3 linked regions of the Homo sapiens genome follow. The protein of the gene in region 1 purifies or fractionates together with the protein of each later gene. This does not show direct contact. Each region holds a gene or a part of one and is shown in the gene's direction. Other genes may lie near its edges. The genes, in order: ZNF224, NOTCH3 and LRP2.

The links.
Region 2: the proteins of ZNF224 (region 1) and NOTCH3 purify together in Homo sapiens (affinity purification with mass spectrometry; 2 studies listed by BioGRID and IntAct, with this or other methods). This does not show direct contact.
Region 3: the proteins of ZNF224 (region 1) and LRP2 purify together in Homo sapiens (affinity purification with mass spectrometry; 2 studies listed by BioGRID and IntAct, with this or other methods). This does not show direct contact.

The regions. Positions count from the first base shown.
Region 1 is NC_000019.10:44,107,187-44,110,326, forward strand, and holds the end of ZNF224 (zinc finger protein 224), read left to right. Parts: coding exon 1-1,098; 3' UTR 1,099-2,640; downstream 2,641-3,140.
Region 2 is NC_000019.10:15,180,349-15,184,005, reverse strand, and holds part of NOTCH3 (neurogenic locus notch homolog protein 3 precursor), read left to right. Parts: intron 1-2,204; coding exon 2,205-2,430; intron 2,431-2,843; coding exon 2,844-3,045; intron 3,046-3,177; coding exon 3,178-3,325; intron 3,326-3,657. UniProt on the Homo sapiens protein: Functions as a receptor for membrane-bound ligands Jagged1, Jagged2 and Delta1 to regulate cell-fate determination.
Region 3 is NC_000002.12:169,208,894-169,212,550, reverse strand, and holds part of LRP2 (low-density lipoprotein receptor-related protein 2 precursor), read left to right. Parts: intron 1-343; coding exon 344-583; intron 584-2,909; coding exon 2,910-3,098; intron 3,099-3,657. UniProt on the Homo sapiens protein: Multiligand endocytic receptor. Acts together with CUBN to mediate endocytosis of high-density lipoproteins. Mediates receptor-mediated uptake of polybasic drugs such as aprotinin, aminoglycosides and polymyxin B.

The DNA.
Region 1 (3,140 bases):
CCATACAAATGTGAGGAGTGTGGAAAAGGCTTTATTTGTAGGCGAGATCTTTATACGCATCATATGGTCCACACGGGAGAAAAGCCATATAATTGTAAAGAGTGTGGGAAGAGCTTCAGATGGGCCTCGTGTCTTTTGAAACATCAGCGAGTCCACAGTGGAGAAAAACCATTCAAATGTGAAGAATGTGGGAAAGGATTTTACACAAATTCACAATGCTATTCCCACCAGAGATCCCATAGTGGAGAAAAACCATACAAATGTGTGGAGTGTGGGAAGGGCTACAAAAGGAGGTTGGATCTTGACTTTCACCAGCGCGTCCATACAGGAGAGAAACTGTATAATTGTAAGGAATGTGGGAAGAGCTTTAGTCGGGCCCCATGTCTTTTGAAACATGAGAGACTCCACAGTGGAGAAAAACCATTCCAATGTGAAGAGTGTGGGAAGAGATTTACTCAAAATTCACATCTTCATTCCCATCAGAGAGTTCACACTGGAGAAAAGCCATACAAATGTGAGAAGTGTGGAAAGGGCTACAATAGTAAGTTTAATCTTGATATGCACCAGAAGGTCCACACAGGAGAGAGACCATACAATTGTAAGGAATGTGGGAAGAGTTTTGGCTGGGCCTCGTGTCTTTTGAAACATCAGAGACTGCACAGTGGAGAAAAACCATTCAAATGTGAAGAGTGTGGGAAAAGATTTACTCAGAATTCACAGCTTCATTCTCATCAAAGAGTGCACACTGGAGAAAAGCCATACAAATGTGATGAGTGTGGGAAGGGCTTCAGCTGGTCCTCAACTCGTCTGACCCATCAGAGACGCCACAGCAGAGAAACACCTCTCAAATGTGAGCAGCATGGGAAGAACATTGTACAGAATTCATTCTCTAAAGTGCAAGAAAAAGTTCACAGTGTAGAAAAGCCATACAAATGTGAGGACTGTGGGAAGGGCTACAACAGGCGCTTGAATCTTGATATGCATCAGAGGGTCCACATGGGAGAGAAAACATGGAAGTGTAGGGAGTGTGATATGTGCTTTAGTCAGGCCTCAAGCCTTCGACTTCATCAGAATGTTCATGTTGGAGAAAAACCTTAGTGATGTGATGGTGCAATAAAGTCTTCACTCAGTCTTCATGAATGCAGTCTCATCTGAAAGTTCACAAAGGAGAGACACATTAAAATATGAGGCACATAGTAAGCACTTCCCTTTGAGTATTTTATCTCTGAATCCATGCTGGTGATAAATTTCACCCATTCTTGGAAGAGGGAAAACATTTGTTTAAGATAACATCAGTGCTTCAGCCATAGCTCAGCATGCCCCAGTAGTCTCAGGACCACCATAATGGAGAATCCTTGTAAATGGTGCAATAAAGCTTCATTCAGAAGTTTGATAATTACAGCTATCATTCAGGAGACAGGCCTTAGAAAGAGTAAGAGTTCATGAATTTACCAGACTAATGGTGGACATGTCCAAATTGATGTCCACTAGAATGTAAACTACATGTGTCTTTGCTGCTAAGTCGTCACAGCCTTAACATTGATTAGCACTTTGTATGTGTTCAGTACTTGTTTGTTAAATCAATGAAAGGATAAAACATATGTATGGATTTGGATACAATTTTGTGTATCCAAAAAGGGAAGCCTGCAAAAAATAATTCTGGGAAACATGAGTTGAAATGCAGAGTAAACTCAGTACTGCAATCCATAGCAATATTTTGCATATTATTATTTTTTCTTTTAAATTTTTTTCTTGATCAGATTTATCATATTCATTGAACATTATTTTATTGCACTTGGCTCCTGGCTTCCCCCCATCCTGTGCTCTGAAGTCAGAGTATTATTTGTGGCTCTATGAAATGTCCATTGCTTGTATACGGTATAAATTTAATTATCTTTTGTAGTTTTTCTCACAGTATAGACTGAAAAGGTTTGGTTAATTTTGCAATAACAGACCACTGCATATTTCACAATTAAGTGTTTTCAACAGTATTAAGGCAAGATTTACAGTAACACTTTTAAAGTGCCAGATGTACATTGACAGAAATTTTCTTAGTCAATCCTAGATTGATCATGATTTGTGATTTCTATGCAGGCCTTGGTATGATTGCCTTTTAATTGCTGTACAATTTCTTTTTTTTTTTTAACTTCTCTGGTATAAAATATTCTAAATTTGAATGACAGCTTTTGTCAACCTTCTTATCCAATATTCTTCCACCAACGCTATGAAACAGGAAGAGAAAATGGAGTTTGGTAATTTCATCAAATATATTCATTATTGGGGGCAGGAGTAACATTTAAATCCTCCTCTTTATTGCTGGCAGTAAAAATATGTCTTTTGGAGAGCAGAACATGCCAGAATGTATAAGGTGCAACTGTTTGATATGAAAACCATAGGATAGGAAACTATGCCTATGACACTAAAACTCCAAAAAGTAGAAGACCACATTGATGATGTCACTGCATTTTAAAATGGAAAGAACAAGTGTTCAAGAACAGGAATTTGTGTGAATTGCATTTATTCCTATAATAATATGAACTCAATGAGATGATGACATAGACACAATAACAAAAGGAGAAAAACAATGTGGCTTTTTTTAGCCTTCATAACCTAATCAAATAAATATCTTTGTGTGTTTTATGTTCTTTTGAGTGTTTACATACTGTGTAAATGAATATTTTTACTGATCTTTGCTGGCAATGAGTGTTTGCAGGCATTTTTCCATTTTATACTTCCATGCATTTTTAATTTTTTTATGCCACGATCTTTTAAACAACCAGCTCTTGTGTGAATTAAGAGTGCGAACTCATTCATTACCATGGTGGGGACACCAATGTTTATGAAGGATCTGCTTCCATGACCAAGCACCTTCCAATAGTCCCGACCTCCAACACTGGAGGTCATACTTCAACATGAGATTTGGAGGGGATACATATTCAAACTATTGTCAGATGTTAATTCATCAGGTATACACCATAGTAATATCTTAAGTGTGTTAAGTTAAAGTGATATATTTTCTAAGGTATAGAACAAATAGGGCTTATCACCCCCCTACAAGCAAAGAAAATGTCACAATGCTTAGTGTGCCATTTTTGATATTGGATGCAACTTATTGTTTCGATTGTGCTACTCTGACTTTT
Region 2 (3,657 bases), about 29 Mb from region 1:
AGTGTTGCAATCATCGCTCACTGCAACCTCTGCCTTCTGGGCTCAAGCACCTCAGCCTCCCCAGTGGCTGCGACTATAGGCGCACACCACAGCGCCCAGCTAATATTTTGTGTTTTTTGTAGAGACGGAGTTTCGCCATGTTGCCCACGGTGGTCTCCAATTCCTGGGCTCAAGCAATCTACCTGTCTCCACCTCCCAAAGTGCTGGGATTACAGGCGTGAGCAACCACACCCGACCTAAGTGCACTGTCTTTGAGAGCAATCGAGTTAATATCATGTGCAAAGTATGAGATAAAAGGCCCCCCAGAGGCCGGGCGAGGTGGCTCACACCTGTAATCTCAGCACTTTGGGAGGCCAAGGTGGGCGGATCACCTGAGGTCAGGAGTTTGAGACCAGCCTGGCCAACATGGAGAAACCCCATCTCTACTAAAAATACAAAATTAGCAGGGCATGGTGGCGCATGCCTGTAATCCCAGCTACTTGGGAGGCTGAGGCAGGAGAATCACTTGAACCTTGGAGGTGGAGATTACGGTGAGCTGAGATTGTGTCATTGTACTGCAGCCTGGGCAACAAGGCATAACTCCGTCTCAAAAACGAACAAACAAACAAACAAACAAACAAAAAGGGGTGCTGCCAAACAGATAAATAACACAAGCCACATATGCAATTTTAAATTTTCTAGTAGCCACATTAAAAAATAAACAGAAATGGGAGATATTAAATTTAATATTTTATATTTATTTATTTATTATGTATTCAGAGTGAGGCTCTGTCGCCCAGGCTGGAGTGCAGTGGTGCGATCTTGGCTCAGTGCAGTCTCGAACTCCTGGGCTGAGGCATTCCTCCTGTCTTAACCTCCTGAGTAGCTAGGATTACAGGCACTCACTACATGCCTAGCTAATATTTTTATTTTAATTCTGTAGAGATGGGGTCTCACTGCGTTGTCTAGGCTGGTCTCAAACTCCTGGCCTCAAGCCATCCTCCTGCCTTGGACTCTCAGACTGCTGCCACTGTGCCTGACCAAATTTAATATATTTAAATTTAATTTATTGAATGTATATAATCGGCTGGGCGCAGTGGCTCACACCGGTAATCCCAGCACTTTGGGAGGCTGAGGCAGGTGGATCACCTGAGGTCAGAAGTTTGAGACCAGCCTGACCAACATGGAGAAGCCCCGTCTCTACTAAAAACACAAAATTAGCTGGGCGTGGTGGCACATGCCTGTAATCTCAGCTACTCAGGAGGCTGAGGTAGGAGAATCACTTGAACCCGGGAGGCGGAGGTTGTGGTGAGCTGAGATCGTGCCATTGCACTCCAGCCTGGGCAACAAGAGCGAAACCCCATCTCAAAAAAAATAAAAATAAAAATAAAAGTAAATAAATAAATAAATAAATAAATGTATATAATCTATTTAACCCAATATATTAACATATCATTTCAACATGTAACCAGTATAAAATTGTTAATGAGATATTTTACATTGTTTCCTTTTTTTTTTTTGAGACAAGTTCTCACTCTGTCGCCCAGACTGGAGTGCAGTGGTGCGATCATGACTCACTGCAGCCTTGACCTCCCAGGCTCAAGTGATCCTCCCGTCTCAGCCTCCCCACTAGCTGGGACTACAGGTGTGCACCATCATGCCCAGCTAATTTTTGTATTTTTTATAGAAATGGGGTCTTGCCATGTTGCCCAGGTTGGTCTCGAACTCCTGAGCTCAAGTGATCTGCCCACCTCGGCCTCCCAAAGTGCTGGGATTACAAGTGTGTGCCACCACGCCCAGCCTATTTTTTTTTTCATACCAAGTCTTCAAAATCTGAAACCCAGTATGTATTTTACATTTATAGCACATCTCCATTTAGTCACAATTTCAAGGACTCAGTAGCCACATGTGGCTAATGGCCACTGTCCTTGTCCTGTTCCAAGCACAGGAATTAGATCAGGCACAATTAGCAGCGTTTGCTTGGCAGCTTAAAGGGACCTTTTGGTTTTCCCAACATCCTGCCCTTGCCACATAGGTGAGGTTTCCAGATAAAGGAGGGGACGAGGCCACAGAAGGGGATGGATTTAGATTCCTCTGACCAAATGCACCCCATCCCAGTTGAACCTGGTTTCCTCCTGAATTCTTCTCAATCCAAGGCATATCCCAGTCAGACTGGGCTAATGGGGGCAAGGTAGGTGACCAGACCGCCTTCCTCCTGTCCGCAGACCCATGCCTGAACGGTGGCTCGTGCCAAGACGGCGTGGGCTCCTTTTCCTGCTCCTGCCTCCCTGGTTTCGCCGGCCCACGATGCGCCCGCGATGTGGATGAGTGCCTGAGCAACCCCTGCGGCCCGGGCACCTGTACCGACCACGTGGCCTCCTTCACCTGCACCTGCCCGCCAGGCTACGGAGGCTTCCACTGCGAACAGGACCTGCCCGACTGCAGCCCCAGGTGGGCGGGGCCTCTGCTTGGAGAGCAGGGACTCTGGCTTGGGATGGGGCCTGGGACCTGGGACGAAGTGGGGACAGCAACGACTTGGGGGAGTCCTCAGCTTGGTACCCACTGCGGACTCTGATGACTGATGGGGCAGGGCCAGGGAAGGAGCAGGGCGTCTGTTTGGAGCTCACCTTGGAGTCTCTGGTGCCTGAGAGGGCATGGCTTCCAGGTGGCTCTCACCTTAGGGCTGAAGTCCCTGGTGAATTGGAGCTAAGGGACCTGATTGGCTTCTGCTGGGGCTGCAGCTTCTTGCCGAGATAAGGGTCAGGGAGTGGGACGTCCCCAGCGCTAACAGCGGGACTCAGGAAGGAGGGCAGGGCCTGTGAGGGGGCGGAGCCTGATCCTCCCTCCCACTCCTTCCGCTCCAGCTCCTGCTTCAATGGCGGGACCTGTGTGGACGGCGTGAACTCGTTCAGCTGCCTGTGCCGTCCCGGCTACACAGGAGCCCACTGCCAACATGAGGCAGACCCCTGCCTCTCGCGGCCCTGCCTACACGGGGGCGTCTGCAGCGCCGCCCACCCTGGCTTCCGCTGCACCTGCCTCGAGAGCTTCACGGGCCCGCAGTGCCAGGTGGGTGGAGTTACTGGGGACCTGGGGGAGGAGCCTGCCTGGGATCCTAGGAGGGAGAAGCCAAGTCGGGGCACAGTTTCTCCCAGACTACCCCCCACCCCACAGTACTGACTCTGAGTGCTTCCCCTCCAGACGCTGGTGGATTGGTGCAGCCGCCAGCCTTGTCAAAACGGGGGTCGCTGCGTCCAGACTGGGGCCTATTGCCTTTGTCCCCCTGGATGGAGCGGACGCCTCTGTGACATCCGAAGCTTGCCCTGCAGGGAGGCCGCAGCCCAGATCGGTGAGTGGGAGCATGTGGGCGGGCGTGTGGGGCCTTGGGAAGGGGCTCATGCACGTACCTCCTGCTAGTGTGAGCCGAATGGGGGTGCCACAGAGCCTATGGGGCATGATGGGGTGTGTGGCTGAGTGGTGTGGGTGTGTGAGCATGTGACAACTGGCCGGGATGGTGTGTGTCTGTCACTGTGAGACAGCAGGGATGGTGTGTGTGCTACAGGGTGTGACCGAGCTGCTGTGAGCGTTGAAGGCATGTGTGTGTATGTCAGTGATGAGACCTTGCCTGCTGGGGGGATGTGTGACAACCTGATGGAGTGTGGGTGCGATCCTGGGGACTCA
Region 3 (3,657 bases), on another chromosome or scaffold:
TGATCATGTAACTGAACATATTATTTTAAGTGCCAGTTCATAGGCAAATTATGAGCAGATTTATATACTGACCTCCCTAATCCTCGCATGATTTGTAGAAGAAAACAAGTGAAGCCCCATTCTCTAACTATTATACAATAGTTGGGTTACTGGTTTCATACCTTTAGGTGTTATTGTATAAGCTCTAGTCTCTCCGATGTTGTTTTTAGATTGCTAACTCAGCTACTATATGTTGGTTATTAATTTTTAGAATAAATTATTTGGTGACCCAATTAAAGAAATTTGAGATGGGGTGGCGAGTAGCTAGGATCAAAAGTTACAAATGGATTTTGTTTTCATTTAGATGCCGCCGAATCCTCAAATGGCTGTAGCAACAACATGAATGCCTGTCAGCAGATTTGCCTGCCTGTACCAGGAGGATTGTTTTCCTGCGCCTGTGCCACTGGATTTAAACTCAATCCTGATAATCGGTCCTGCTCTCCATATAACTCTTTCATTGTTGTTTCAATGCTGTCTGCAATCAGAGGCTTTAGCTTGGAATTGTCAGATCATTCAGAAACCATGGTGCCGGTGGCAGGCCAAGGTATGCCAACTCCAATATAAGTAAGATTTGACTTCATCTGGCACCAGGTTGAAATCCCTGGTGCCATGAAAACATTTCTTCATGTGTGGATTCAGTGCATAATGAAGCTTTCCTTTCCCTTTAAATCAACTGGCACAGCCTAAAGTGTTTTTCAAACTTTAGTGTGTCTCAGAATCACCTGGAGGGCTCACGCCAACACAGCTCCAGACCTCGTCCCCAGATTTTTCTGATTTTGTAGTCTAGGGTAGGGCCAGAGAATCTGCACTCCTAATAAGCTCCCAGGGCATGCTGACGGTGCTGGCCCATGGATCACGCTAAGAACCACAGGCCCAGAGCAATATAGAATGTAGGATGGGTTTGCAAGAAGTACTACAGAGTTGGTGTTCCAAAGAACTGTGCCCTATTTCTGATTATTAATGGAGATTTATGGTAGAAGGTATACTACTATTTAATATGGTAATGAAATAGTCCACAAATATGATTTATTAATATATATTTGGTGAATTGAAGCAAAAGAGTTCACAGTGTCAGTCCCTCTTTAGTAATCATATTTTTGCAGCACTTTGTGCTTACATACTGTGAATGTATGAAACGATCACTTGCTTCCTAGATGAGCCAAGGTTTTTAGGTATACCTTAGCACAAGAGGAACTAAGAGTTTTCTAACATCGCTAGGAGAATGTCACAGGCTAAAGAGAGAAATAGAGGGTAGAAAGGAAGGAAAAAAGGATGAAGTCAATGAAGGGGTTGTAGAGATGGTCAGAAAATACAGAAATGCACCTGGAGAAGGGAATCAGAGAGCTTCCAGTCCCACACGTCCTCCTGCCTGATGGTCATGTTCACGTGGACCCATGACTCATCTTTGTTTTTCCATATCTAAAAAGTTATGGATCTAAGTTATCATCTTGTACAGATATGACAAATTCAATAGTTTTTTTCTCCCAGCTTTTCATTAAAAAAATGTTCAAACACAGAAACGTTGAAAGATTTAGGAAATATCCTTATACCCTTTACCAAGATTTAACAGTTGTTAACATTTCTTCACATTTGAGCTCTCAATTTGTATGTGTGTGTGTGTACATGCATATGCATTCACATTCATTTTTTATGAACCTTTTAAAAATAAATTTTAATACCATGCCACTTTACCCCTACATATGTTAGCATACAGTTTCAAAGGGCATTATGAAATATTCATAATCATATTTCTCCAGTTGGCCTCACAATATTTTATATATAGCTGTTTTGTTCCATCCAAGATCTAATCAAGATTCATGCACTGCACTGGGAATATCTCATTAGTTTCTTCCAGTTTGGAGTAGTTGCCTCTAGCTTTTTGCTATGACATTGATGTTTTAAAGAGGCAGACCTGTTGTCTTTGAGAATCCCACACTGAGGATTTGTCTGAATATTTAGTCTGTCTTTCATTTTTTACCCTGCAGTTCTCATGAAATGGAAGTTAGGTCTAATTGCTTGATTAGATCAAGGTTAAATACATTTAGCAATAATACTTTATAGGTTATGCTGTGTTAGTTGATACAGAATCTTATTAGGAAGAACATAATGTCAGCTTGCCCTGCTCTTAGTGGCATTTGAGTTTGATCACTTGGTTAAGGTGGTCACTGCTACACTGCTGCTTTTTAAAGCTGTATTTTTTTTCCTTCTTAATTTTGGTGGAATCTATGCAATCACACTTAGGCCCTGTGAATGTCTTGGCTCCCAAGCACCTTTTACCCATTGGTTTTGGCAGCCATGGATGATCCTTGTTTGAAATGATTATTTAATCGAGGATTGCAAAATGGTGATTTTCTTATTTTAGCATTCCCTTTACATTTGTTAGATAATATTCTTCTATAAAGGAAAGCTCTTCGTGTCTCCCCGGTTTACTTTTTAAATAATTTATTATTATTATGGGCTCAAATTTTTATTTTTTAAATTCAGTGTGTTACAGTCAATTACTGTAATCCTTCTTTTGATGTTTTAGTGGATCCATTTTGGCCAGGGAGAACCTCTTCAAGTGGCGACCTGTATATTTCTGTGTATGCCTTGTTTCTTGGTACAATAAGATGTTTCACACTCACTTCGTACCTTCCCTGCCTAAACCTATAATCAACATTTCTCCCGGGAGCCAGAGCTCCTTATTGTGGGAAAGAGTAGAAACCAAGATGTGGGTCTGCTCACTGCAACTGGGAAAAAAGGGTTTCATTTTGTAATGGGGAGATGCTCAGAGCAGGGGGTTGGGAATGAGGGTTTGAGAGGAAGGGCAGACATTTAAAAGTTCTAATTTCAGTGACAGCATTTTTTAATGATCTTTTCTTAACTTCCAGGACGAAACGCACTGCATGTGGATGTGGATGTGTCCTCTGGCTTTATTTATTGGTGTGATTTTAGCAGCTCAGTGGCATCTGATAATGCGATCCGTAGAATTAAACCAGATGGATCTTCTCTGATGAACATTGTGACACATGGAATAGGAGAAAATGGAGTCCGGGGTATTGCAGTGGATTGGGTAGCAGGTATGTAAGCTATATGGTGATTTTAATATGTTTGCATCTCTGTCATCTTATTTTATGCTAGAAAGTTTAGCCTAACTCCATGTGCTACAGGTTTGTTTTTCTAGACAATTATTAAGACCATTTAAGATACATTGAATCTAGATTAAGCTACGTGTCTATTTGATAAATGATACGGTGTTTCAGTTTACAGATTTATAACAAATTAATCCTTATCATTTTCTTCTGTTATTAACATAATCTGGAGACAAAAGTGGCTAAAATATTAAATTATGTGGATTTGTTTTTTTTACACTTAGATTTGCACCTGATTTCTGCATTAGAAATTTTCTAAATTTTCAAGAGAAAGAGATATAAAAATATAAACTATGGAACAGCATTCATTTGCTTTGAAGCTGAGCAATTTTAGTTGCCAAATTCTTAATTGCTTCCTTTTATTCATATATAAAAATCCCTTAGATCATGAGATATTTTATTAGTAATTTTTTTAAATGCCTGGTCCAGTATTATATTAACTTAGTTGTATTTATTCATGCACATAAGCTTGAATAACCCCTCATTT